Linked DNA regions of Homo sapiens. The protein of the gene in region 1 purifies or fractionates together with the protein of each later gene. This does not show direct contact. Each region holds a gene or a part of one and is shown in the gene's direction. Other genes may lie near its edges.

What was found.
Region 2: the proteins of KIF2C (region 1) and HABP4 purify together in Homo sapiens (affinity purification with mass spectrometry; one large-scale study listed by BioGRID and IntAct). This does not show direct contact.
Region 3: the proteins of KIF2C (region 1) and SLC6A15 purify together in Homo sapiens (affinity purification with mass spectrometry; one large-scale study listed by BioGRID and IntAct). This does not show direct contact.
Region 4: the proteins of KIF2C (region 1) and SGMS2 purify together in Homo sapiens (affinity purification with mass spectrometry; one large-scale study listed by BioGRID and IntAct). This does not show direct contact.
Region 5: the proteins of KIF2C (region 1) and SAR1B purify together in Homo sapiens (affinity purification with mass spectrometry; one large-scale study listed by BioGRID and IntAct). This does not show direct contact.
Region 6: the proteins of KIF2C (region 1) and RCBTB2 purify together in Homo sapiens (affinity purification with mass spectrometry; one large-scale study listed by BioGRID and IntAct). This does not show direct contact.
Region 7: the proteins of KIF2C (region 1) and LSM14A purify together in Homo sapiens (affinity purification with mass spectrometry; one large-scale study listed by BioGRID and IntAct). This does not show direct contact.

What each region holds. Positions count from the first base shown.
Region 1 is NC_000001.11:44,742,837-44,746,336, forward strand, and holds part of KIF2C (kinesin-like protein KIF2C), read left to right. Parts: intron 1-3,500. UniProt on the Homo sapiens protein: In complex with KIF18B, constitutes the major microtubule plus-end depolymerizing activity in mitotic cells. Regulates the turnover of microtubules at the kinetochore and functions in chromosome segregation during mitosis.
Region 2 is NC_000009.12:96,453,169-96,456,668, forward strand, and holds part of HABP4 (intracellular hyaluronan-binding protein 4), read left to right. Parts: intron 1-3,500. UniProt on the Homo sapiens protein: Ribosome-binding protein that promotes ribosome hibernation, a process during which ribosomes are stabilized in an inactive state and preserved from proteasomal degradation.
Region 3 is NC_000012.12:84,881,800-84,885,299, reverse strand, and holds part of SLC6A15 (sodium-dependent neutral amino acid transporter B(0)AT2), read left to right. Parts: intron 1-1,259; coding exon 1,260-1,441; coding exon of another isoform or gene 1,442-1,555; exon of another isoform or gene 1,556-3,500.
Region 4 is NC_000004.12:107,831,432-107,834,931, forward strand, and holds part of SGMS2 (phosphatidylcholine:ceramide cholinephosphotransferase 2), read left to right. Parts: intron 1-3,500. UniProt on the Homo sapiens protein: Sphingomyelin synthase that primarily contributes to sphingomyelin synthesis and homeostasis at the plasma membrane.
Region 5 is NC_000005.10:134,615,829-134,619,328, reverse strand, and holds part of SAR1B (small COPII coat GTPase SAR1B), read left to right. Parts: intron 1-3,500. UniProt on the Homo sapiens protein: Small GTPase that cycles between an active GTP-bound and an inactive GDP-bound state and mainly functions in vesicle-mediated endoplasmic reticulum (ER) to Golgi transport.
Region 6 is NC_000013.11:48,523,081-48,526,580, reverse strand, and holds part of RCBTB2 (RCC1 and BTB domain-containing protein 2), read left to right. Parts: intron 1-1,823; 5' UTR 1,824-1,922; intron 1,923-3,500.
Region 7 is NC_000019.10:34,210,504-34,214,003, forward strand, and holds part of LSM14A (protein LSM14 homolog A), read left to right. Parts: intron 1-3,500. UniProt on the Homo sapiens protein: Essential for formation of P-bodies, cytoplasmic structures that provide storage sites for translationally inactive mRNAs and protect them from degradation. Acts as a repressor of mRNA translation. May play a role in mitotic spindle assembly.

The sequences.
Region 1 (3,500 bases):
AACCTGGTTGAGGAGACAAAAAGACGTTTCTGAATCACCAACTAACCAACTAACAGAAGACAACTTGTGATGAATGGCACAGATGAGCATTGCTAGAGCAGCTCAGAGGTGGAAACTTGCTGAGAATGGGCTGGGCTTAGAGGGTGGAGTGTGAAGGCTTAGCTGAAGCAGCAAGATGGCACACATGGGGACCATGAAGAAGCTGGCCACGAGCAGTGCAGGGCCCAGGATGCTTGGCAGCCGCAAAACAGCTGAAAAAGGAGACAAAGGTCTTCATGTCTGGCACTGAGCTGGTTAGGTTTTCTTCTGTAGGCAGTGGGGAACCTTGGAAGGATTTTGAGGAGAGCACTGTGACTAAGACATTTCTGTTCTAGTGGCATTGTGGTGTAGTGAAAAGGTCACTGGGCTAGGAGTATGAAAACCTGGATTCTAGTCTGGCTCTGCCACTGCTTTGTGTTCTCAGGCATGTTTCTGCCCCTCTTCGAAGTTTAGTTTCCTCATCTATAAAGTGAGGATGATAATAATGTCTACCTCACAGGGTTGTTGTGAGGATTTACTCAGCACATTTTTTGGACTGCTTCCAAAATGCTAGACACTTATTGGGTGCTAGGGATACAGAGGTGAAGGAGACAGACTCTTGGACTCTCTTCCATGGAGCTTAATAAAATAATACATGTAGCTGGGCACAGTACCTGTAATCTCAGCACTTTGGGAGGCTGAGGCAGGAGGACCTCTTGAGGCCAGGAGTTTGAGTCCATCCTGGGCAAATACAGCAAGACCTCATCTCTACTAAAAATAAAAAACAATTAGCCAGTCATAGTGGCTTGCGCCTGTGGTCCCAGCTACTCCAGAGGCTAAGGCAGGAGGATTGCTTGAGCCCAGGAGTTCAGGGCTACAGTGAGCCACTACACTCCAGCCTGGGTGACAGAGTGAGACCCTGTCTCAAAAACAAATAAATAAAAAAGATAAAACATGTAAAAAGCTTGCTTAGCATAGTACGTATAGTAGAGATATTTAGGTGGTATATTTGAGAAATAAAAGGATTGAATACTTTCCATTATCTGCCCCTAAAGAATTAAGAGGTTCCTAAAATTCCTTTCAACCAGCTATTATCAGTCTTTTGTGATTTGTTTTTGTTGCTTGTTTAGAAATATATCCCTTGTTTTACCTCAGATCAAATACTGCTTTTGGAATAAGATCCGAACTTCTTAGTGGGGCATTCAGAGCCTTTTCAAGCTCTGGTTTTTTTTTTTGTTTGTTTGTTTGTTTTTTGAGACAAAGTCTCACTCTATCGCCAGGCTGGAGTGCAGTGGCACGATCTCCCTCAGTGAGCCGATTTCGGCTCACTACAACCTCCATGCCCCAGGTTCAAGCAATTCTCCTCACTCAGTCTCCCAAGTAGCTGGGATTACAGGCACCTGCCACCACACCCAGCTAATTTTTGTATTTTTAGTAGAGACAGGGTTTCCCCATGTTGACCAGGCTGGTCTCAAACTCCTGACCTCAAGTGATCTGGCCATCTTGGCCTCCTAAAGTGCTGGGATTACAGGCATGAGCCACCACATGTGGCTCAAGCTCTGATTCTAATCACCCTTTTTCTTTGTACCACATACTCTTCTTCCACATATCCTATGCCCTGGCAAATGAGGCAGTTTACTGCTCTGTGACTGCCTAATTCCCTGCTGCCTTTACACTCTTATTCCTTTCTCCTGGGATGTTCACCCTGAATTATCAACATGAGAATCAGTTGATTGTCAGAGCAAGGCTTAAAACTCTGGTTTTCGCGGGTCGTGGTGGCTCACACTTGTAATCCCAGCACTCTGGGAAGCTGAAGCGGGCGGATCATGAGGTCAGGAGTTCAAGACCAGCCTGGCCAATATAGTGAACCTGCATCTCTACTAAAAATCCAAAAACTTAGCCGGATGTGGTGGTGCGCACCTGTAGTCCCAGCTACTCAGGAGGCTGAGGCGGAAGAATCGCTTGAACCCGGGAGGTGGAGGTTGCAGCGAGCTGAGATCGCGCCATTGCACTCCAGCAGCCTGGGCGACAGAGTGAGATTCCGTCTAAAAAAGGCCGGGCGTGGTGGCTCATGCCTGTAATCCCAGCACTTTGGGAGGCTGAGGTGGACGGATCACCTGAGGTCAGGAGCTCAAGACCAGCCTGGCCAACGTGGTAAAACCCTGTCTCTACTAAAAATACAAAATTAGCTGGACATGGTGGCGCATGCCTGTAATCTCAGCTACTCAGGAGGCTGAGGCAGGAGAATCACTTGAACCTGGGAGGCGGAGGTTCCAGTGAGCCGAGATCATGCCACTGCACTCCAGCCTGGGCACCAAGAGTGAAACTCCATCTCAAAAAAAAAAAAAAACCTCTGGTTTTCTTTGTTGTTTATGCTCTCTGTAGTTTAGGGGTTAGAAATGGGGGAGGTATGTACCAAGAGTCTGTGGCTGTCCCAGAAGTGTGGATAGAAGTGTGATTACTGAAGTGCTTGCCAGCTTTTGCATTTAGTGATTCTATCCTCCTTTTTTTTTTTTTATTTAAATCTCATTCTGCTTTGATTTCCTTTGTACATATGACTTATAATCCCCATTAGAAATTGAGCTCATGGTGGCAGGGGTTGTATATGTCTTTTTTTTTTTTTTTTTTTTTTTTTTGAGACAGTGTTTCGCTCTTGTTGCCCAGGCTGGAGTGTGATGGCGCTATCTTGGCTTACTGCAACCTCCGCCTCCCGGGTTCAAGCGATTCTTCTGCCTCAGCCTCCCGAGTAGCTGAGATTACAGGCATGCATCACACCTGGCTAATTTTTTATTTTTAGTAGAGACGGGGTTTTTCCATGTTGGTCAGGCTGGTCTTGAACTCCCGACCTCAGGTGATCTGCCTGTCTCAGCCTCCCAAAGTGCTGGGATTACAGACGTGAGCCACCACGCCCGGCCTATATATGTCTTAATTCATCTTTGACTACCTTCCCCCTGTAGGCTGCTGTCTTCGTGGTGCCTAACAAATGTTTGAATAGGCAGCAAATAACTGCAGATTTCTTTTTTCTTTTTCTTTTTTTTTTGAGACGGAGTCTCGCTGTGTCGCCCAGGCTGGAGTGCAGTGGCGGGATCTCGGCTCACTGCAAGCTCCGCCTCCTGGGTTCACGCCATTCTCCTGCCTCAGGCTCCTGAGTAGCTGGGATTACAGGTGCACGCTGCCACACCCAGCCAACTTTTTGTATTTTAGTAGAGACAGGGGTTTCACCGTGTTGCCCAGGCTGGCCTTGAACTCCTGAGGTCAGGTAATCCGCCCACCTCGGCCTCCCAAAGTGCTGGGGTTACAGGCGTGAGCCACCGCACCCAGTCCTGCAGGTTTCATCTCTAGGCAGTAAAGCCCTCACCCTAGAGTACATGCTTCAGCTCTGTCACATTTTGAAATACAAAGTTGGGACAAATTTAATATGTCTGAACCTGTTGTAAAGCTATCCTGGTGAAGTTTGAGTTGTTCCTGGAGAATTGCAGGAC
Region 2 (3,500 bases), on another chromosome or scaffold:
CGATTCTCCTGCCTCAGCCTCCTGGGTAGCTGGGACTACAGGCATGCGCCACCATGCCCAGCTAATTTTTGTATATTTTTTAGTAGAGGCATGGGTTCACTATGTTCATGTTGGCCAGGATGGTCTCGATCTCTTGACCTCATGATCTGCTTGCCTTGGCCTCCCAAAGTGCTGGGATTACAGGTGTGAGCTACTGTGCCTGGCCTAATTTTTTATATTTTTAATAGAGATGGGGTTTCACCATGTTGTCCAGGCTGGTCTTGAACTCCTGACCTCAGGTGATCCGCCCGCCTCAGCCTCCCAAAGTGCTGGGATTACAGGCGTGAGCCATGATGCCTGGCCAAAAATGTAGGTTTTTAATGTCTGACTATCTGTCTAGCAATATGTATATAAACCCTTGGGTGAGCCTTGCTCAATAAGTTCATTCTTAAAGTCATGAGAGGCCGTTTCAGTTTTGCTTTTCCTAGCCTTTCAGAATTATGTTCTTTGAAACAAAGGTCAATTTTATTTTGTGGAAAATCTTACTGTAAATTTTATTGTATTCTGTTTCTTTACCTGGGCTTGGTTTAGATGATGATGAATGCATGTGCCAGCCTTTTCTTGGCGAGGTTAGTGAAATGCAGTGCTTGCATTCTCCACTTGGAGCTGCTGATCCAGCACAGAAAAACAAGCCCAATTCATGGCAGTGTTGATCTCTTAGTACTAAATTGTGGGGAAAAAATTGGATGCTGATTATCTTTGTTTTGGGAGAGTTGGGAAGGAGAACGAGATGTTTGCCCAAAACTGATCATTATTCTAATTATCTTTGTTTTGGGGGGTTTGGGAGGGAAAATGAAATGTTTGCTTGATATTGATAATTATTCTAATAAGTAGCCAATTGTATTTAACAGTTTTCAGTTTTATACTGTTGGAAAAGGCTTTAATATGGTGTACAGTAAATGTCCTATTTTAAGTTTGATGAATTCCAAATTTGACGCAATTAAAAAATAACTTGGAGGAAGCAGAAAGGTGGGATAAGCACCTATAAGTAATTCTGTAGTTGAGTGGAGATAATAAAAGATGTTTTTAAAACTATGGGTTGGAAATAGGAAATCTGAAACTATGTTAAAATAACTCTTTTTACGCTGGGGTAAAAGTATGGAAAAGTATTGTTACTGTTGACAAATTTTCTGATGACTGTTATGTCATGATCTGTTATAATTTTCAACTTGTTAGGTAATTAACTTTCTTAGTGGCTTTTTCTGCCTTACATTTTGAATGCCTTTTCCAGTTCTGAACTCTTTTTTTTTTTTTTTTTTTTGAGACGGAGTCTCGCTCTGTTGCCCAGGCTGAAGTGCAGTGGCACGATCTTGGCTCACTGCAAGCTCCACCTCCCGAGTTCAGCCATTCTCCTGCCTCAGCCTCCCCAGTAGCTGGGACTACAGACGCCCGCCACCACGCCTGGCTAATTTTTTGTATTTTTAGTAGAGACAGGGTTCACCGCGTCAGCCAGGATGGTCTCAATCTCCTGATCTTGTGATCTGCCCGCCTTGGACTCCCAAAGTGCTGGGATTACAGGCATGAGCCACCGCGCCTGGCCCCAGTTCTGAACTCTTAATAAAGCACGTGCCCCCAGATCTGATGTTGCACACTCCTAGGCAACCGGGCACAAGTGTCAGTCACAGTGGGGGCTGCGTGGTGGCTCACGCCTGTGATCCCAGCACTGGGAGGCTAGGCGGGAGGATCACTCGAGCTCTGGGGTTCAAGACCAGCCTGGGCAACAAAATGAGACCTGTCTCTACAAAAAAAAATTTTTTTTTTAATTAGCTGGGTGTGATGGTGCAGCCTGTAGTCCTGGCTATTTGAGAGGCTGAGGTGGGAGGATCAGTTGAGCCCCAGAAGTCAAGGCTGCAGTAAACTATGATCACACCACTGCAGTCCAGCCTGGGTGACAGAGACCCTGTCGAAAAAAAAGAAAAGTGTCATTATCTTGATATGTCTGCAATCAAAGCATAATACTCTGCTGGGTGCAGTGGCTTATGTGTGTAATCCCAGCACTTTGGCAGGTCGAGGCAGGTGGGTCACCTGAGGTCAGGAGTTCAAGACCAGCCTGGCCAACATGGTGAAACCCTGTCTGTAGTAAAAATACAGAAAATTACCTGAGCGTGGTGGCACAGGCCTGTAATCCCAGCTACCTGGGAGGCTGAGACTTGAGAATTGCTTGAACCTGGGTAACAGAGGTTGCAGTGAGCTGAGATTGTGCCACTGCACTCCAGCCTGGCAGTCTGGGTGACGGAGTGAGACTGTCTCAAAAAAAAAAAAAAAAAAAAAAGTGGCCAGGCACAGTGACTCACACCTGTAATCCCACTACTTTGGGAGGCTGAGGCGGGTGGATCACCTGAGGTCTGGAGTTCGAGACCAGCCTGGCCAACATGGTGAACCCCCATCTCTATTAAAACTACAAAAAAATGACCTGGGTGTGGTGGCAGGCACCTGTAATCCCAGCTACTCAGGAGGCCGAGGCAGTAGAATCACTTGAACCAGGGAGTTGGAGGTAGCAGTGAGCCGAGATGGTGCCATGGCAGTCCAGCCTGGGTGATAGAGTGAGACTTGGTCTAAAAAAAAAGGCAGGTGTAGTGGCTCATGCCTGTAATCCCAGCATTTTGGGAGGCCGAGACCGGTGGATCACTTGAGGTCAGGAGTTCGAGACCAGCCTGGCCAACATGGTGAAACCCCATCTCTACTAAAAATACAAAACTTAGCCCGGTATGGTGGCACATGTCTGTAATCCCAGCTACTTGGAAGGCCGAGGCAGGAGAAATGCTTTAACCTGGGAGGCGGAGGTTGCAGTGAGCCAAGATCACACCATTGTACTCCAGCCTGGGTGACAGAGCGAGACTCTGTCTCAAAAAATAAATAAATAAATAAATGAAACATTATGCTCCACTTATGATAACATCTTTCCCATATCCTAAACATATCACAAGCCTCAGATTATGACCTCACTACAGGATATGAATTGAATTTAAATATTTCTAGGTTATGGGAAATTAAAATTATAGTAGGTTGAATTTAGATCTGTTGTGCAGCTTTCACACTTGAAAAAAATACTTTAACAAGGAATAAATTATATAATTTTATGTTAGTGATGTCATAAACATCATTTTTGCTTTAAAATGAGACCGGTTAAGATTTACCTGTACCCAGATGATAAAGTTTTGGTAGAAAATATTAAATGGGAAAATAGAAAAGTGTGTATCTACATATATTCCTTAAGGTCTTATGTGTATCTAAGTGGGAGGGAAGTCTAATAGTTAAAAAATATAACTGTGGCCAAGGGCAGTGGCTCACGCCTGTAATCCCAGCACTTTGGGAGGCCGAGGTGAGCAGATCACGAGGTCAGGAGATTGAGACCATCCTGGGTAACACGGTGAAACCCCGTCTCTACTAAAAATACAAAAAATTAGCTGGGCGTGGTGGCGGGCGCCTATAGTCCCAGCTACTGGGGAGGCTGAGGCAGG
Region 3 (3,500 bases), on another chromosome or scaffold:
ACATTCAGGATTGACATACTCTTAGAGATAGACTTTTGGGACCATCTAATTTTTTTAGCTCTTTCCAAGTTACTTTACTATGCCCTAAGATATTAGGGTAAAGTATTATAAGCCTTCACTTATTAACTTTGATAATCTTTATTTTGTATGCCCTGATTGATGCCTTACATTTTCATTAAAACTAACAGAAAGGGGACAGAAATAAGAATTTGAATGAAAATAGTTGCTTTTATGTCTTTGGTTCTGTTGTTTCATACTTTTCCCATCATTTTTTTAAATCCCATAATATAATATAAATATTATAAAGAGCAGTCACCTATAGTAGTGATGTCTAGTAAACATAGATTGTAATGCACAGATATAGTTTATATTTTTCAAGTAAACATGTTTAAAGAAAGTAAAAAGAAATAGATGAAATATTTTACTTAATCTATTATATAAAAATACTATTTCAATATATAATTACTCTAAACATTATTAATATAATAATTCACAATAATTTTCTTATACTGAATCTGAAATCTAGTTCAAATTTCACATTTGTAACCCATGTCACTTTAGATTGGCCCCATTTCTAAAGCAACATGTGGCCAGCAGCTAGCATATTTGACAATGCTTACCCAGGGAGTCAATCCCATAATTCCAAGGGTAGTAGGGGTGATAAACCTGATTTGTTTAAATTACTTTGATAAGGGGTTGGGTGCGGTGGCTCACTCCTGTAATCCCAGCACTTTGGGAGGTCGAGGCAGGTAGAGCCCCTGAGGTCAGGAGTTTGAGAACAGTCTGGCCAATGTGGTGAAACAACATCTCTACTAAAAATACAAAAATTAGCTCGGTTTGGTGGCGGGTGTCTATAATCCCAGCTACTTGGGAGGCTGAGGCAGGAGAATCACTTGAATCCGGGAGGCAGAGGTTGCAGTGAGCCGAGATCGCACCATTGCACTCCAGCCTGGGCGACAGAGCAAAACTCGGTCTCAAAAATAAAAATAAAATAAAATAAAAATAAATAAATAAAAATTACTTTGATAAGAGGTTCACATATTCTTACTGCAGGACTGCATAAGAAATATTTAACAGGATACATTTCTGTTTGTTGCACAGTTGAATTTTTATTGTTCATTGTGAATTTACATGCTGCTATACAATGGTAGTACTTTTCTAGGAAGCATTAAGAATTCACTTACAGGTTTATTGGAAAAGAAATTGTCGCATTGCTCTTTATATTCTGAAATAATTGTGTGTTACTTTTCTTTCTACAGTTGTAGAACCAGAATGTGAACAAAGTTCTGCCACCACCTATTACTGGTACAGGGAAGCACTGAATATTTCAAGTTCCATTTCTGAAAGTGGGGGCTTAAACTGGAAGATGACCATCTGCTTGTTGGCTGCCTGGGTCATGGTTTGCTTGGCTATGATCAAAGGCATTCAGTCTTCTGGAAAAGTTAGTATGTTAGAGCCCTTCCTCATTCTGCTAATCACCATTTCTGGATTCATCCCTCTCTCAAATTCTGTTACAGATTTCTGTGGGCAAATCACACATAACACTTCATTCTAGGTAGTTAAATATTAGTGAAAAGTGACACTTCAAAAGTGTGCTTACATTTTTAAAAAGACAAATAAAAACAGTGTTTTATAGTGAAATCTAAGGTTAATTATAATCTTTCCTTATTTCAACAAGATCTTTAAAATTTTTGTGAATACTTAAAAGTCCTTTCTTTTTGCCCTTTATTCAATTAGTCCTAATGTTTCAGTTCTCTAATTACCAATTAGTTAAATTATGGAAATTGGGGAAAGTGGTAAAATGAGTAATTCATTCATTTTGTTTGTTTGATATCATTTGTTTCTCTCTGCTGTAGGTGTTCTAAGGAATAGCTGCATAAGACATTTTGAAATAATGTAATGTGAAGTGTTTCTTAAAGCTCTGAACATCATTAAGTAGTTAATAATAATTCCAACAAGGAATTCAGAGTAATGTAAAAGACTAAATATCATTCCTTCTAAGGCAAATTGAAAATTAGAATGGTTGTGGTTTAAAAAGACATTAAGTGAATTCTAGGTAGCTTGTTTGTTATTATTTTTAAAGGACGCTCTAGGAAAGTAATTGCTATTCACTATTTTGCTTTCGTATTACTTTTTTTTTTTTTTTTTCATTATCACAGCCATTGTTCTAAAGCTCTCCACATCTCTTGGCTGGATCATAGCAAGAATTTACTGTTGGCTCTTCTCTCTGCCGTTTAACTGTCCAGCTGTGCTATTTTCCTTTTCAAAGTATAACTGATTTCAGGCTAACTTATTACCACTCATCATCATATACTAGCAGGAATGGCAATAGTAGTAGTAGTAGCAGCAGCAATAGTAGAAGTAGTCATAATAACAATAATAATAAATGATGATAAAGATGTTTCTGACAAGAATTAGGGTAAGAACAGTAATTGAAGCCAATTATTTATTACAAATGTATTTTGCTTTGGGTACTGTGATAACTACTTTTTATACTTTATCCCATTTAATTATAAAAACCACTCTTGAGAAGTAATTTTTATTTTCAGAACCATTTTACAGATTTAAAATAAACAGGTTTGAGGAATTAGTTTAACTTATCCAAAGTTTCGTGGCTATTAAGTTCTAGTATTTGGAGTCAAATGCAAGTCTGTCTAAATCTAGAGCCCATGTTCTTTAACTGCAACACTATAATGTCTCACCCCGTCCTAGTCCCACCAATTAGTCAACTCTTTTAGGGCAGAAGTCTGTCTAATTCATCTTTGCTTCCTGTTACTTTATATTTAATTAAAAATTTTAGTGACTTTTTAACTTGTAAATTGTAGCTGATTTTACATTTATCTTCCTGAAGGAAACTCTGTATCATTTTGTCTTTTGAATTTGTGAATATACTTGTTAACACATCTAAATATCTTTAAGTCTTTGGCAATGTTATTGTATTATATGACTAAATAACTTCGAATTGTTCAATTGTGTATGTCTTCCACTATGTCAGAGCCACATTCCCGTCACATTATAAATGAAGGAGTGGATTCTTAAATAAGACCTAACCATATTTATATGATTCCTAACATAATATCATTTGGTAGAAAGAAAACCAACTGTGGTCATCCAGAGAAGCTCAAAAACTCTTGTACTCAGGTTCTCTTACTACCACGTTTTGTTTCTGTTTCTTCTTAGTCTGTGTCTTAGCATCACTTAAAGAACTATTCATCCTTTTCTTATCACAGAATCTTGGGGTTGTTCTTCTCATGTCATGTAGTGTAAATTTATATAGAAAATGTAATACAATTTATTTAGTACATACATTTATTATTTTAATGAGAATGCCTCAGGAAAAGACTAGTATTTGGGCAATATTTGAAGAAAGAATTTAACAGGCACTGATGGGGAGAAAGCTAGCTGTAGGTAATGTGAGCAAAGATGTGGAAGCCAAAATTGTCACAATTCCTCAATCTGAAACAATGAGTTAAATATAATAACAATGACTTTATGAGGAA
Region 4 (3,500 bases), on another chromosome or scaffold:
TCTTGGCTGTATAATGGGAGTAAAATAATATTTACCCCATAAGGTGACTATACGAATTACATGGCTCCCTGTGTATAAAACATTGAGAGTAATGCCTGCTTCATGGTAAATATTCAAGGGCTCAGCAATCATTATTTTCTGCATATAAGCTGCACTTCTAACTTTTAAAACAAAGAGTTCAGTCCCGTTGTGTCAAATGGAACCATTCTTTCTCGTTAAGGTGGCATGTATCTTTTGGAATGGTATATCCACATTCAAGTGTTACATCTTGGCTGTGCTAATAGGAGCTGGAGCCTGTCCCATATTTTTCCCTCCCCGTTTCCTTTGGGGTTAAAATAAAATGATTGAAGTTGGTTGTACACTGCCATTGAATTCAAGAACTTTCATAAGAAGTGTATAACATCAGCTGTGAATGCTGAAAAGCTTTTCAAGCCACAGTCACAATATGCCTGCCCTCTTAGCAGATGCTGGTAGCGGTAGTCTAGCACAACTGGTACTGTCCCTCACAGAGCTTAGGCTTCTGGGGAGTATTGTACCATGAACACCACTGTCCCAGAAAGTGCCCGGGCCACTAAGAATCACAAACCCTACTGTCCTCGCCAGTGCTGTGCGTCTTTCTTTAGGAGGCCCTGAGACAGTTTATTTAACACAGCTGCTACTGTCTTCTGATATTTGCATTTGTTCAGCGAGTTGTTGAACCACCCAGTTATTACTACCCCAGTAGTTGCTACCAAACTTTCATAGCAACAAAGGGTATTGTTTTGGTTAGTGTAATATACCAGTTCTTCTGCATGAATGTCATTGAATATATTTACGTATATATAAAATATATGCCATATGGTAAATTAGCTAGGGCTGAGAAGTTTGCTCCCTTGAAATATAGTTTCATTGGCAAGTTATAAGCAGCAAGCAGGAGCATTTAAAAGTTTATTTAACAAATACTTATATTCACTATGTGTCAGGGTTTGTTCTAAGTACTTAAAACTGTTACTCATTTACTCCTAAAATTCACTTTAAGGATCCTACTTGAAACACAGGGGGGTTAAGTCACGTACTTAAGGCCACACAGGTGGTAAATAGTTGAATTAGATTTTGAAAGCAGGCAGCTTGACTGCAGAGTCTAATCACTGCACTGTTGCTTGTGGAATCTAGCATGTTTCTCACAGTTTGGGCCCTATTTGTGTCTTTGTGTATGCAATTTTGCCAAAGAAAAAAATTGCACCTGTTCAAACATATGATCAACTCCTTGGTTTACCATGTGGAGGATTACAACTAGATTATATATTTCAATATTGCTATTGAAAGACATTGATAGACTGGGTACTGTGGCTCATGCCTGTAGTCCCAGCACTTTGGGAGGCCAAGGCGGGTGGATAGCTTGAGTCCAGGAGTTTGAGACCAGCCCAGGCAACATGATGCAACCCCTCCTCTACAAAAAACACAAAAATTAGCCAGGTGTAGTGGTGCACACCTGAAGTCCCAGCTATTTGGGAGGCAGATGTGGGAGGTTTGCTTTATCCTGGGAGGCTGAGGCTGCAGTGAGCCAAGATTGCACCACAGCACTCCAGCCTGGGCGACAGAGTGAGATCCTTTCTCAAAAAAGAAAAAAGACGTTGATACTAATTTTCACTATAGTGTTATCAAGCATTTCCCTGTAAAAGCTTCTGAGTGCATGGTCGACCCTGGTGATGATCCGGGAAGGAAGCATGCATTCTCCCATCCCCCACTCAGCACACTCAGCTGAGCAAGACTAGCAGCAATCTCAGGCCTCCTGTCCTAACAGCATTCTTTTTATTTTTTTAGCTTTAGGGTTTTCATTTGTTGTAAATTAAAATAGTTAAAAATCTTTATCGGAGGAGAGTAGCTTGTACACTTGAGGTTGCTTTGTTTTCTAATTACTGTTGGAGATGGTAGTAAGCAGAATAATGGCTCCCCAAAGATGTTCACATCCTAATTCCCAGAACCTATGAATCTGTTGTGTTACACAGCTTGAACATTCCTAGTCTGAAAATCCAAAATGCTCCAAAATCTGAAACTTTTTGAGTGCCAATGTGACACCATAAATGAAAAATTCCACACCTAACGTCACATGATGGGTCGTAGTTAAAACAGTCAAAACTTTGTTTCATGCACAAAATTATTTAGAACATACAAAATTACCTTCAATCTGCATATAAGATGTATATGAAAAGTAATGACAATATTCCAAAATTCAAAAAAAAATCCAAAAGACTTCTGGTCCCAAGCATTTCAGATAAGGGATTCTCACTCATCCTGCACGGAAGGGGGAATTCAGGTTGCAGATGGAGTTAAGGGTGCTGACCAGCTGATGTTGACATTAAGATTATCCTGGGTCATCTGGGTGAGCCCAGTGTAATCACAAGGACCTTCTGAGTGGAAAAGGGAAGCAGAAGAGTCACAGCAGGAGAGTTGACATTATTGGAAAAACTCAAACATCCATTGCTGGCTTTGAAAATGGAAGGAGGCCACAAGCCAAGGAATGCACACAGTCTCCAGAATCTGGAGGAGGCAAGGGAATGAGCTCTCCCGTGGAGCCTCCAGAAAGGAGCACAGTCCTCCTGACACTGTGATGTTTAGCTCAGAGAGATCCATTTTGGACTTCTGACCTCCAGAACTGTAGGAGAAAAAAATCTGTGTTCTTTTAAGCCTCTAACTTTGTGGTAGAGCAGCAGTAGAAACAAATACAGAGCAATCTGTGTTTTGATTTGTTCCTTATGCCAGTCCTAGCAGAGGGCTGCCTGATCTCATGATTTATTACAGACACATTAAGTATAGCAAGGTTTACATTTTGACGGCTGTTTTATTTTATATGTAAAATTAACCACTTTGTGGGAGGGAGAGTTAACTTTTGATAATTCTGTGTATTTCTATACCTAACAATTATTTAAAATGACAGTACCAAGGTTTCCAGGAAAAAAGTGTCTTAGTAATTCTGGAGCAGGTAGAGCCACTTGAATCTTTTTTGTCAGAGTTGCCTAACAGGAATGTGGCTCTGCATCCTATGTAGTTGTGTCATACCTTTGCATTTGTTTAGGGTGAAATGATAGTCCCAGCATGGTGATACTGGGATGGTGGAGATTATCACTTAATTTTTACTCCAGGTTCCTTTTCATTTTTAAAGATCTGGTATTTTCTCATTTGCCTAGCAATGTTATTATGAAATCCCAGAGAACAACAGCTGTAAACAAAAGGTGACATCATTCATTGGGTCATCTATTGTAAGTATGTAAAGGGCTATAGGCTCTTAGAGTAGACAATATCTCAGAATCACAGTGTCAACTTCTGAAATTAAAAGAACAAGAGGCTGGGCCCAGTTGCTCATGCCTGTAATCCCAGTGCTTTGGGAGGCCAAGGTGGGAGGATCACTTAAGGCCAGGAGTTTGAGACCAGTCTGGGCAACATAGCCAGGCCTCCATCCCTATCCCGTGCAAAATTAGCCAGGTGTAGTGGCACACACATGTAGTCCCAGCTACTCAGGA
Region 5 (3,500 bases), on another chromosome or scaffold:
GATGGAGTCTTGCTCTGTTGCCCACGCTGGAGAGCAATGGCACGATCTCGGCTCACTGCAACCTCTGCCTTCTGAGTTCAAGCAATTCTCCTGCCTCAGCCTCCCAAGTAGCTCAGATTACAGGCATGTGCTACCACACCCAGCTAATGTTTTGTATTTTTAGTAGAGACGGGGTTTCAACATGTTGGCCAGGCTGGTCTCAAACTCCCGACCTCAGATGATCCGCCCACCTCAGTCTCCCAAAGTGCTGGGATTACAGGCATGAGCCACCACACTTGGCCAAAAATAATGTTTTTTAATAATGACTCTAATTTTTTTTTTTTCCTTTTTTGAGACAGAGTCTCACTCTGTTGCCTAGGCTGAAGTGCAGTGGCACCATCTCGGCTCCCTGCAACCTCTGCCTCCTGGGCTCAAGCAATTCTCCTGCCTCAGCCACTGGAATAGCTGGGATTACAGGCATGTGCTACCAAGCCCAGCTAATTTTTGTATTTTTAGTAGAGACCAGGTTTCGCCATGTTGGCCAGGCTGGTCTCGAACTCCTGGCCACAAGTGATCCACCTGCCTTGGCCTCCCAAAGTGTTGGGATTACAGGCGTGAGCCACCACACTTGGCTGACTCTGTAAATTATTTAATAAATTTTATTTTGCATTTAAGGTTATGTAACGAATTTGAGAATAAAGTTAATGTTAAAGTGGGTAAATTATTAGAAACAGAAACCTAATTTAACCTGTGACCTTACTTTTACAGGTGAAAATTTTATGAATCAGATAGACACAGAGTTTAAAGACAAGTTAATCTATAGATTAATTATGAAATAGTAAGTGTAGCCTTAATAATGAATATAAAATTGAGAACTGGACCAAAAAGTAGATAATACTGTAATTATTTAGTCCAGTAAATGTTCAAAGAACAAAGAATGAGGATAGAACAAAACAAAGTATTTTATCTATAAAACAATTAGTGAGGTTGGAAAAGGAAATTGACAAATCTTTTTTTTCTTTTTATTTTTTTTGAGATGGAGTCTCGCTCTGTCACCCAGGCTGGAGTGCAGTGGCACGATCTCGACTCACTGCAACCTCCGCCTCCCAAGTTCACACCATTCTCCTGCCTCAGCTTCCCGAGTAGCTGGAACTACAGGTGCCCGCCACCACGCCTGGCTAATTTTTTGTATTTTTAGTAGAGACAGGGTTTCACTGTGTTAGCCAGGATGGTCTCGATCTCCTGACCTCGTGATCTGCCCGCTTCGGCCTCCCAAAGTGCTGGGATTACAGGCGTCAGCCACTGCGCCCGGCCAACAAATCTTTTTTTTATATTAGGAGAAAAAAGTGGGGCTTGGCAAGTAAGATTCTGATATAAGAACAATTCTGTTAAAGAAAAAATGATCATGGTGAAATTGAGTAGATAAAATTGTCTGCAAAAACAGCGTAATTTCCAACCTGGCCAACATCGTGAAACCCGTTCTGTACTAAAAATACAAAAATTAGCCGGACACGGTGGCACGTGCCTGTAATTCCACCTACTCGGGAGGCAGAGACAGGAGAATTGCTTGAACCCGGGAGGCGGAGGTTGCAGTGAGCCAAGATGGCGCCACTGCATTCCAGCCTGGGCGACAGAGGGAGACTCTGTCTCGAAAAAAACAAAAAACACAGAAAAAAAACCCAACAAAAACCAGCATAACTGGAAGAGACTACAGAGTGGTCTTAAATATTAGGTGTAAGTCATTTTTTAATTTTTTGACGTTGCTCTATTTCATTTATTCAAATATTTATTGAGCACCTACTTTATGTCAGACATTGTTCTGGATACTAGGGGAAAACAGATGCTATCTCAACCTTTCCTGCAGCTCACATTCATTTCAACTCATATTTTTTAATTAATCAAAAGCATATGTGATCTATTCTGGTGTGGAAAAGAAAACATTTTTGAAAAGGAAAAAAAAGCATATGTGAAAACCTACATATATCCTATGATCTGGCAGTTCTACTCCTAGTTACTTACCCGAGAGAAATGAGAAAATACATTTACCAAAAACCTTGTACAAAAATGTTTATACTAGCTTTATTTGTTGGTGGTGAGTTATTATTATTTTTTTTTTTTGAGTCAGTGTCTCACTCTGTGGCCCAGGCTGGAGTGCAATGGCACAATCGCGGCTCACTGCAGCCTCAACCTCCCAGGTTCAAGTGTTCCTCCCACCTCAGTCTCCCAAGTAGCTCGAACTACAGGCACATGCTACCACATCTGGCTAATTTTTTAATTTATTTGTAGAGATAGGGTTTCACCATGTTGCTTAGGCTGGTCTTGAACTCCTGGGCTCAAGCGATCCTCCCATCCAGCCTCCCAAAGTGCTGGGATTACAAGTGTGAGCCACCATACCCAGCCTATACTAATTTTATTTGTAATAGCCAAAAACTGGAAACACCTCAAATGTCCATCAAAAAGGAAATTGATAAATAATGGAATGCTACTTAGCAAGAAAGATGAATAAACCACTGATACATTCAGTCATATTATGCTACATGGCAGAAGCTGGTCATAAAAAGTTATCTACTGTATGATACCATTTATATGAAATTCTAGAACAGACAAAACTAACCTGTGGTGATAGAATTCAGATCAGTGGTTGCTTCCGGAGATGAAAATGGGGATTGACTGGGAAGGGGCTAGAGGAGACTTTCTGGGATGTTAACAGTGTTCTGTATCTTAAATAGCCTAATTCAGACTTCTTTTATAAAGCAGAAAGTATATTGGGGATTATTACCATAGAGGTGGTTTGCTAACTAAGCATTATCTTTTCCTTATGAACAGTGACTTTGAATATAGATTGTATTAAATATTTTATTCATTTGGCAATCTACACATAGAATTTCTTTCTTTCTTTTTTTTTTTTTTTTGAGACAAAGTCTCGCTCTTGTCCCCCAGGCTGGAGTGCAATGGTATGATCTCAGCTCACTGCAACCTCCACCTCCCGGGTTCAAGCGATTCTCTTGCCTCAGCCTCTCGAGTAGCTGGGATTACAGGAGCCTACCACCACTCCCGGCTAATTTTTGTATTTTTAGTAGAGACGGGATTTCACCATGTTTGCCAGGATGGTCTCGAACTCCTCACCTCAGGTGATCCGCCCCCCTCGGCCTTCCAAAGTGCTGGGATTACAGGCATGAGCCACCGTGTGCCCTGCCCTTTTTTTTTTTTTTTTTTTTCCGAGATGGAGTCTCGCTCTGTTGCCCAGGCTGGAGTGCAGTGGCCAGTCTCGGCTCACTGCAACCTCCGCCTGCCACATTCTCCTGTCTCAGCTTCCCTAGTAGCTAGGATTACAGGCATCTGCCACCACGCCTGGCTAATTTTTGTATTTTTAGTAGAGACGGGGTTTCACCACATTGGCCAGGCTGGTCTCAGAACTCCTGATGTCTCAAGTGATCCACCCGCCTCGGCCTCCCGAAGTGCTGGGATTAGAGGCATGAGCCACTGCACCTGGCCTACATACAGAATTTCTTTATTTATTA
Region 6 (3,500 bases), on another chromosome or scaffold:
CAGTGGTGCGATCATAGCTCATTAAAAAAATTATTTATTTTTTATTTTTTGAGATAAGATCTTTGTCACCCGGGCTGAGTGCAGTGGTGTGATCATGGTTCACCGCAGCCTCCACATCCTGGGTTCAAGCGATCCACCTATCTTAGCCTCCCAAGTAGCTGGGACTACAGGCGTGTACTACCACGTGTAGCTAATTTTTAAGTTTTCTGTAGAGACGGTGTCTTCCTATGTTGCCCAGGCTAGTCTCAAACTTTTGGGGGCCTCAAGCGATCCTCAAAGTGCTGGGATTACAGGTGTGAGCCACCATGCCTGGCCTTCCTAGGGTATTGATTCAATTTTATTTTACAGATGGCTAAAGAAATTATAGTTTATGAGTTTTCATTACCAAACGTTTATTGAATTTCCATGTCCTTGGTAAAGGCAAAATTAGAATGATAGCATTCTCATTTTAAGAGTTTATTTTCTTTAACATTGGGTAACCTTAATCTCTCCATCCTGAGATGATTAATTTAAGCTTAAAATCTTGAAAACCATCTTGTCAGATGGAAAAGCTGTAGCATACCAATTCATTGACAGAGTTACATGGGACCTTTTATCTTTGGTATTCCCTCCACCAAAACTTCCCCACGAAAAAATTCCCATCAAAGTCTAGCCATGCATATGTTGGTATCCATAACACATTAAAATAGTACTGTCTTCTGCATGTTTTAAAATGTTATCAAATATCAAATGTTATCAAATGATACCATATGTATCATTTTGTGACTTAGTGATTTTGGTGAACATTGTTTTGTAGATATACCTGTTTTGATTCTAGATAATTTATTTTAATAGCTATATAGTATGCATATGCCACAGTTTATTGGTTTTGTTGATCAATTTGTTCTTTCTTGCTTTTTGCTATTGGGAATATTTGTGTGTATGCTCTAGAGTTTATCTAGGGCAGTGTTGCTAAAATTGCAGGACTTGTTAGTGATCTGGAAATTAGTGGGCTGAGATCAGCATTTTCTTTTAAAATGAAATTGAACAAGATAAAATAGGATAGAGTAGGGTAGAATAAAATAGCATAAAGTAGAAAAATGGAAAAGATATCAAGCATCTCATGTAGGAGGAGTAAGAATTATTTTGTGAAATTTCAGTTATATATACATATATAACTGAATATATATATATATATATATATATATATATATATATATATATATATCATGAATCCTTTGCTCACTTTTGAATTGTGTCGTTTGTTTTATTCTTACTGATTTGCAGGCATTCTTTATATATTTTGTGTATGGATCCTTTCCAAGCTGTCCATTATGCATGTTACAAATATCTTCCCCCATTCTGTGGCATATTTTTCCTTTTGTTCAAGTTTACTGCTCTTTTCTTTGTGTTTTATGCTTTCCTGTCTTATGTATGAAATCTTTAACTGCTCTGAGGTCATAAATATATTTCTATACTTCTAAAAGTTTGAAAGTTTTGCTTTTTTTTACATTTCCACATGGATTCTCTTTTATTTTCCATATGGAAATACTATAGATTAAATTCTCCTTAGTGTGCATTTTTTCATGTGTTTCAGTGTCCAAATTGTTGAAACCCTCTCCTGAAGCTTATAAAGTATGATATTCTAAAGTTACATTTTATAACTTTAGTATTTTTATAATAGAGCATCTCTGCTGCTGACTTTTTAATAGTAGATAGCACAGATACAATTTTTAAGCTGTATTTTTCTCAGATAAAGAATGGATTGTTAAATGTGCAAGACAGTATATTCTTTTCCTTCTGTTTTTCTCTAATAGAATTTATTTGTGTATTTATATTTCCAGTCACATTAACTTTGCTCTAGAAGACAACTTTACAAGGATCTAAAAGGAACAGGATTAAAGATGACTGAATACTGGGTTCCAGAAATTTAAAACAATCAGGTACAAAAGTTTTTGGAGGGAATGCTCCCAGCCAGTCAGTATAAAATAGAACTGTTGAGAATGTACACAAGAAAAACTTAAAGTATCTAGCCCTGAAATACAGTGGAGGGTCCCAAAACAAGGGCTTTGGAATAGTCCTGGTTCAAATACTGGCTCTGACACTGATTGGTTGGTGACTATTGGTCACGTTACTGAAATGTGTGAATAAAATGGAGGCAATGATTAACCTGTTTCATTTGGATATTATAAAGATTAAATAAGGTGAGGCACTTAGTGCCTGGCACAGAATAACTTTATTTTTACTGTTGTTATTGCTGTTGTTATTTAGAATACATTTTATCACATCATGGATATGGCTTTCTGTATGTATATTGTGAATTGTTATTTTAAGTATATATATCAACATATTGTTAATAGCCTGGTGAAATCACATGGATAACAGGGTAAGGTAATCTCCACGTGTAGTGCACAAACTATACATGCAAATTGGGGATGATAGTTTTCTTTATTATGTATGCATCACATTGAAATAATGTAAAAAAAAAAGCCAACCATCTCCCACAATGCTAAAAAATTCAAAACACTTTTTAATAGTATTATACAATAGTAATTAATCTTGATTTATTTTTAAATCTTGAAGGACTTTCTGATTGACAAATATGAAATTATGTTAATCTTACATTTCATTCAATTTGAATCCTGCATGTCATTTCTTTGAATGTGGTAATTTCCATGACATACATACAATTATGTCTTAACCTGATGTCAGATAAACAGAATGGCCTGTTTTCCTACCATTCTAATTTTAAAGAGTTTAATTTTACTTGAAATTGATAAAAGACACTGAAAAGAGGTTATTTCCTACTCAAAAGCCCAGGATCGGTTTTTCATGATTTTAGCACATTAGGAAGATTTCCCTTCTGCTAGGAACGAAAGGGGGCCTAGGGTAGTGCAGTGAGGGGCAGTCACATCTCTACTTGGTCCCTTCTTTTTTCTCTTCTCTCCCTCTTTCTTCTCCTCTCCTTTTATTTTTTATTCCAGTAAACTTGGGGCAAATATGGAAAAAGTGTTTCCTGATAGGGTGAGGCAGAAGGAGAGGGAACTTTGGTTACAGGCCAGTTCCAGTATACAAAAAGCTGGGTTCTAAGGATGCTTTGTATGAATACGTTGCGTTTTACTCTGAGCCATGGGCTGTGGGTTATAGCAATGAAGGAATCGTCTGCCCTTTTGAAGAACTTACCAATTAATAGAGAAGGTACATCATACAAGAATAACTGTCATATGAGGCAGAATTTGAAAAATGCCTTCAATGTAGTTAAAAACAAAACAAAAAGTGCTGTGGAAATACAGAGAAGAGGTCCCAGCCCATTTGGGTAATCAGGATCCACATTGATGTAAATCTCAGTGGCAGTCATGCTGGGTCTTAGAGAAAATTAGGATTTTAACAGATCTGCTAAGATGCCATAGATAATATGTAGTAAGTATTAATTAAAATGACAGAATATCTTTCCATATTGTCAATCAGATCGGTTTATAAATTTTTAAGTGAGAAACTTCTAAGTAATCTTCTAAAAAGCA
Region 7 (3,500 bases), on another chromosome or scaffold:
TCAAGTGATCCACCTGCCTTGGCCTCCCAAAGTGCTGGGATTGTAGATGTGAGCCACTGCGTCCAGCCTACTTGCTTAATTTTTAAACATTCTAAAGATTGTTTGTTTGTTTTTTGAGATAGGGTCCTGCTCTGTCTCCCAGACTGGAATGCAGTGGTGTGATCATGGCTCACTGCAGCCTCTACCTCCTGAGCTCAGGCCATCCTCCCAATTAGCTGAGATCACAAGCAAGCACCACCAGCTAGTTTTGTAGGGACGGGGTTTCGCCATGTTGCCAAGGCTGGTCTGGAACTCCTGGGCTCAAGTGATCCACCCACCTTGGCCTCCCAAAGTGCTGGGATTATAGGCATGAGCCACAGTGCCCGGCCTATTCTGGAATTTTTAGTTAAATCAGGAACACATGAAAAAGAAGCATAAATATTGAAATTAGCATTATTCATGAAGAATGAGAACTAATAAGGAACTTAAATTAGGCACAGGCAAAATGTAAATTAAATATACAAAAGTCAATAGTTCTGGCCGGGCACGATGGCTCATGCCTGTAATCCCAGCACTTTGGGAGGCCAAGGCAGGCGGATCGCCTGAGGTCAGGGGTTCGAGACCAGCCTGGCCAACCAACATGGTGAAACCCCATCTCTACTAAAAATACAAAAATTAGCCGGGCATGGTGGCGTGCACCTGTAATCCCAGCTACTCAGGAGGCTGAGGTGGGAGAACCCGGGAGGCAGAGGTTGCAGTGAGCCGAGATCACGCTACTGCACTCCAGCTTGGGCGACAGAGCGAGACTCCATCTTAAAAAAAAAAAAAATTTAATAGTCCTAAAGCCTAATCCATTGATTATGTAATGAGGAGAAAAGATGATTACAGTAATGCAAAATAGAAATTGTATACAAAATATATAATAAGAAATAAGTTGGTCATACTAAGAAATATGACCAACTTCTATGATAAATAATGTAAGACAGGGACATAAAAGTTGCATGTAATGGAAAAAACATATCTTATTGCTAGATAGAAGAACAAGAACAGTACCAGCACTTAGGGAGGCAAAGCCAGGATGATCACTTGAGCCCACGAGTTTGAGACCAGCCTGAGCAACGTAGTGAAACTTCATCTCTACCAAAAAATTTTAAAAATAAGCAGAGTATGATGGTGGACACCTGTGGTCCTAGCTACTCAAGAGGCTGAGACAGGAGGATCACTTGAGCCCAGGAGGCCGAGGCTGCAGTGAGCCCTAACTGCACTACCTCACTCCAGCCTGGGCGACAGAACCAAGACCCTGTCCCCCCCCAAAAAAAAAAGATGTTGGGAAGACTTTACTCCTCATAGTTAACAAATTTATTGCAAATTAATTAAAAATCAATGCAAATAGAATAGTAGGAGAACTTAGTAAAACAGTTTATCTTTAAAATAAACATGGAAGTGTGGCTGGACATATTTGAAAAATAAAAGTAATGGGTTTACTGACATGATAATAAAATGTAGCAATGCAGGAAAAAAGAAAGAGATGAATAGAAAGCAATAGGCAGGCAGAAACAGATCCGAGTATAAATAAGAATTTATCCTGGGTGCAGTGGTTCATGCCTGAAACCCTAACATTTTGCGAGTTCAAGATGGAAGCCAGGGATTTGAGACTAGCCTGGGCAACATACCAGGACCCTGTCTCTAAAAAAATTAAAAATTAGTTGGGCGTGATGTGTGCGCCTATCAGCTTGAGAGGCTGAAGCTAGAGGATTGCTTGAGCCCAGGAGGTTAAGGTGGCAGCAAGCTGTGATTGCGGCCCTGCACACTAGCCTAGGCAACAGAGCAAGAATTCATCTTAAAAGAATTTAGTAGATGATAAAGGTATTATTTTAAATTAGTGGAGAGAAGGCTGTCTGTTCCAATTAATAATGTTGCCTGATCATTTGGAGAAAGTCACTCTAGATTCTTTCCCTCATACTGAGCACCAAAAAATATATAAATTTTAAATAGATTAAAATGTTAAAAATTTTGAAGTATGTGTTTATTAAAAGAAAGAGGTGTATTTACATAAAGTTATGACAAATGACAAGTCCTAAGAGTTTGCATTTAAGTTTTATCAACTAAAATTGCTGAATTTCACAAAATTAAAATTCCTAGAATTTTAAGTGTGATAAGATTGTGAAGATAGCTCAAGGGAGTGTGTCTATAATATGCAGAAATCACTTCTGGATTTATTCCTAATAATGTATCCAGTATCACAGTATCACCTGTATTTCCCTGTTTATAACAAAACTGGCATCATGATGATTAGTAGGCCTTAATAGTGAAAAGGCTTTTTAAGTACACAACAAATGTTTCTGTACTTGCTCCGATTGCCCCATTGCTTGTACTTCTGTAGTACTTGTGAGCCATAGGATCTTTTCTCAAAAGCCTTGATAAAGAAGTTTTATAAACTTATAAGATGATTTAATGTAGTACCATAAAATTAACTGTAGCAGTAGGCTTTTTCAGGAAGACATGTGAAATAAAAAAAATTAGCAAGGTGTGGTAGCGCACATCTATAGTCCTAGCTACTCAAGAGGCTGAGGCAGGAAGATCATTGGGTCCCAGGAGTTAGAAGTTGCAGCGAGCTGTGATTGCGCCACTGCACTCCAGCCAGAGCAACAGAACAAGACCCTATCCTGTCCCTAAAAAACAAAAAACAAAATGTGTTTTATAAGTGATTATAAAATGTTTTTTTCATAGGCCAAAACTTACATAAACCATGATTTCCCATTATAATCCAGTGGAAAAATTGTAATGCTTCTATTAGTGGTAACTTAATTTTGAAATGTTAAGTAGATTGTGCCTGTGTCGGTTTCTGGGTTTTGATAAATGATCATTTATTTGGCTAACTTTGCCATTAATGGCTGAAATGGTATTGCACATTTGTAAGTGCATACTTTAGATAATCATAAATTGGGGAAATATTACTAATAAATTATCCCTGAATCATCTAGGTACATAATAATGCATTGTCAGCACTCACCAGTTGTTTGACACCTGCAAATATGCACAGATGGACAGTAACATTTGCAGCATATTTGGGGGATTTTTTTACGTGAAATGAGCATTTTTTTTAAGCAAAACATTATATTTTGGAATAATTATGAGATGTGAGTGCCTAAGCAGAGATGTACAGCAAACATTATCAGGACAGAAAGCATGATGGGAGCACCCGATGTTACATTCTTCAGTTCATGCTGTGACCAGGCGACCTCATAAAAGGAAAAATATAATGTATAAGTACAAACCCCATTTTTTGTTTTGGCTCTTTTATATTTGTATTTTTTGAGACAGAGTCTAGTTTTGTCACCCAGGCTGGATGCAGTGGACCGATCTCGGCTCACTACAACCTCTGCCTCCCAGGCTCAAGCAATCCACCCACTTCAGCCCCCTGAGTAGCTGGGGTTACAGGCATGTGCCACCACACCTGGCTAATTTTTGTATTTTTTTTGTAGAGACAGGCTTTCGCCATGTTGTTCAGGCTGGTCTCG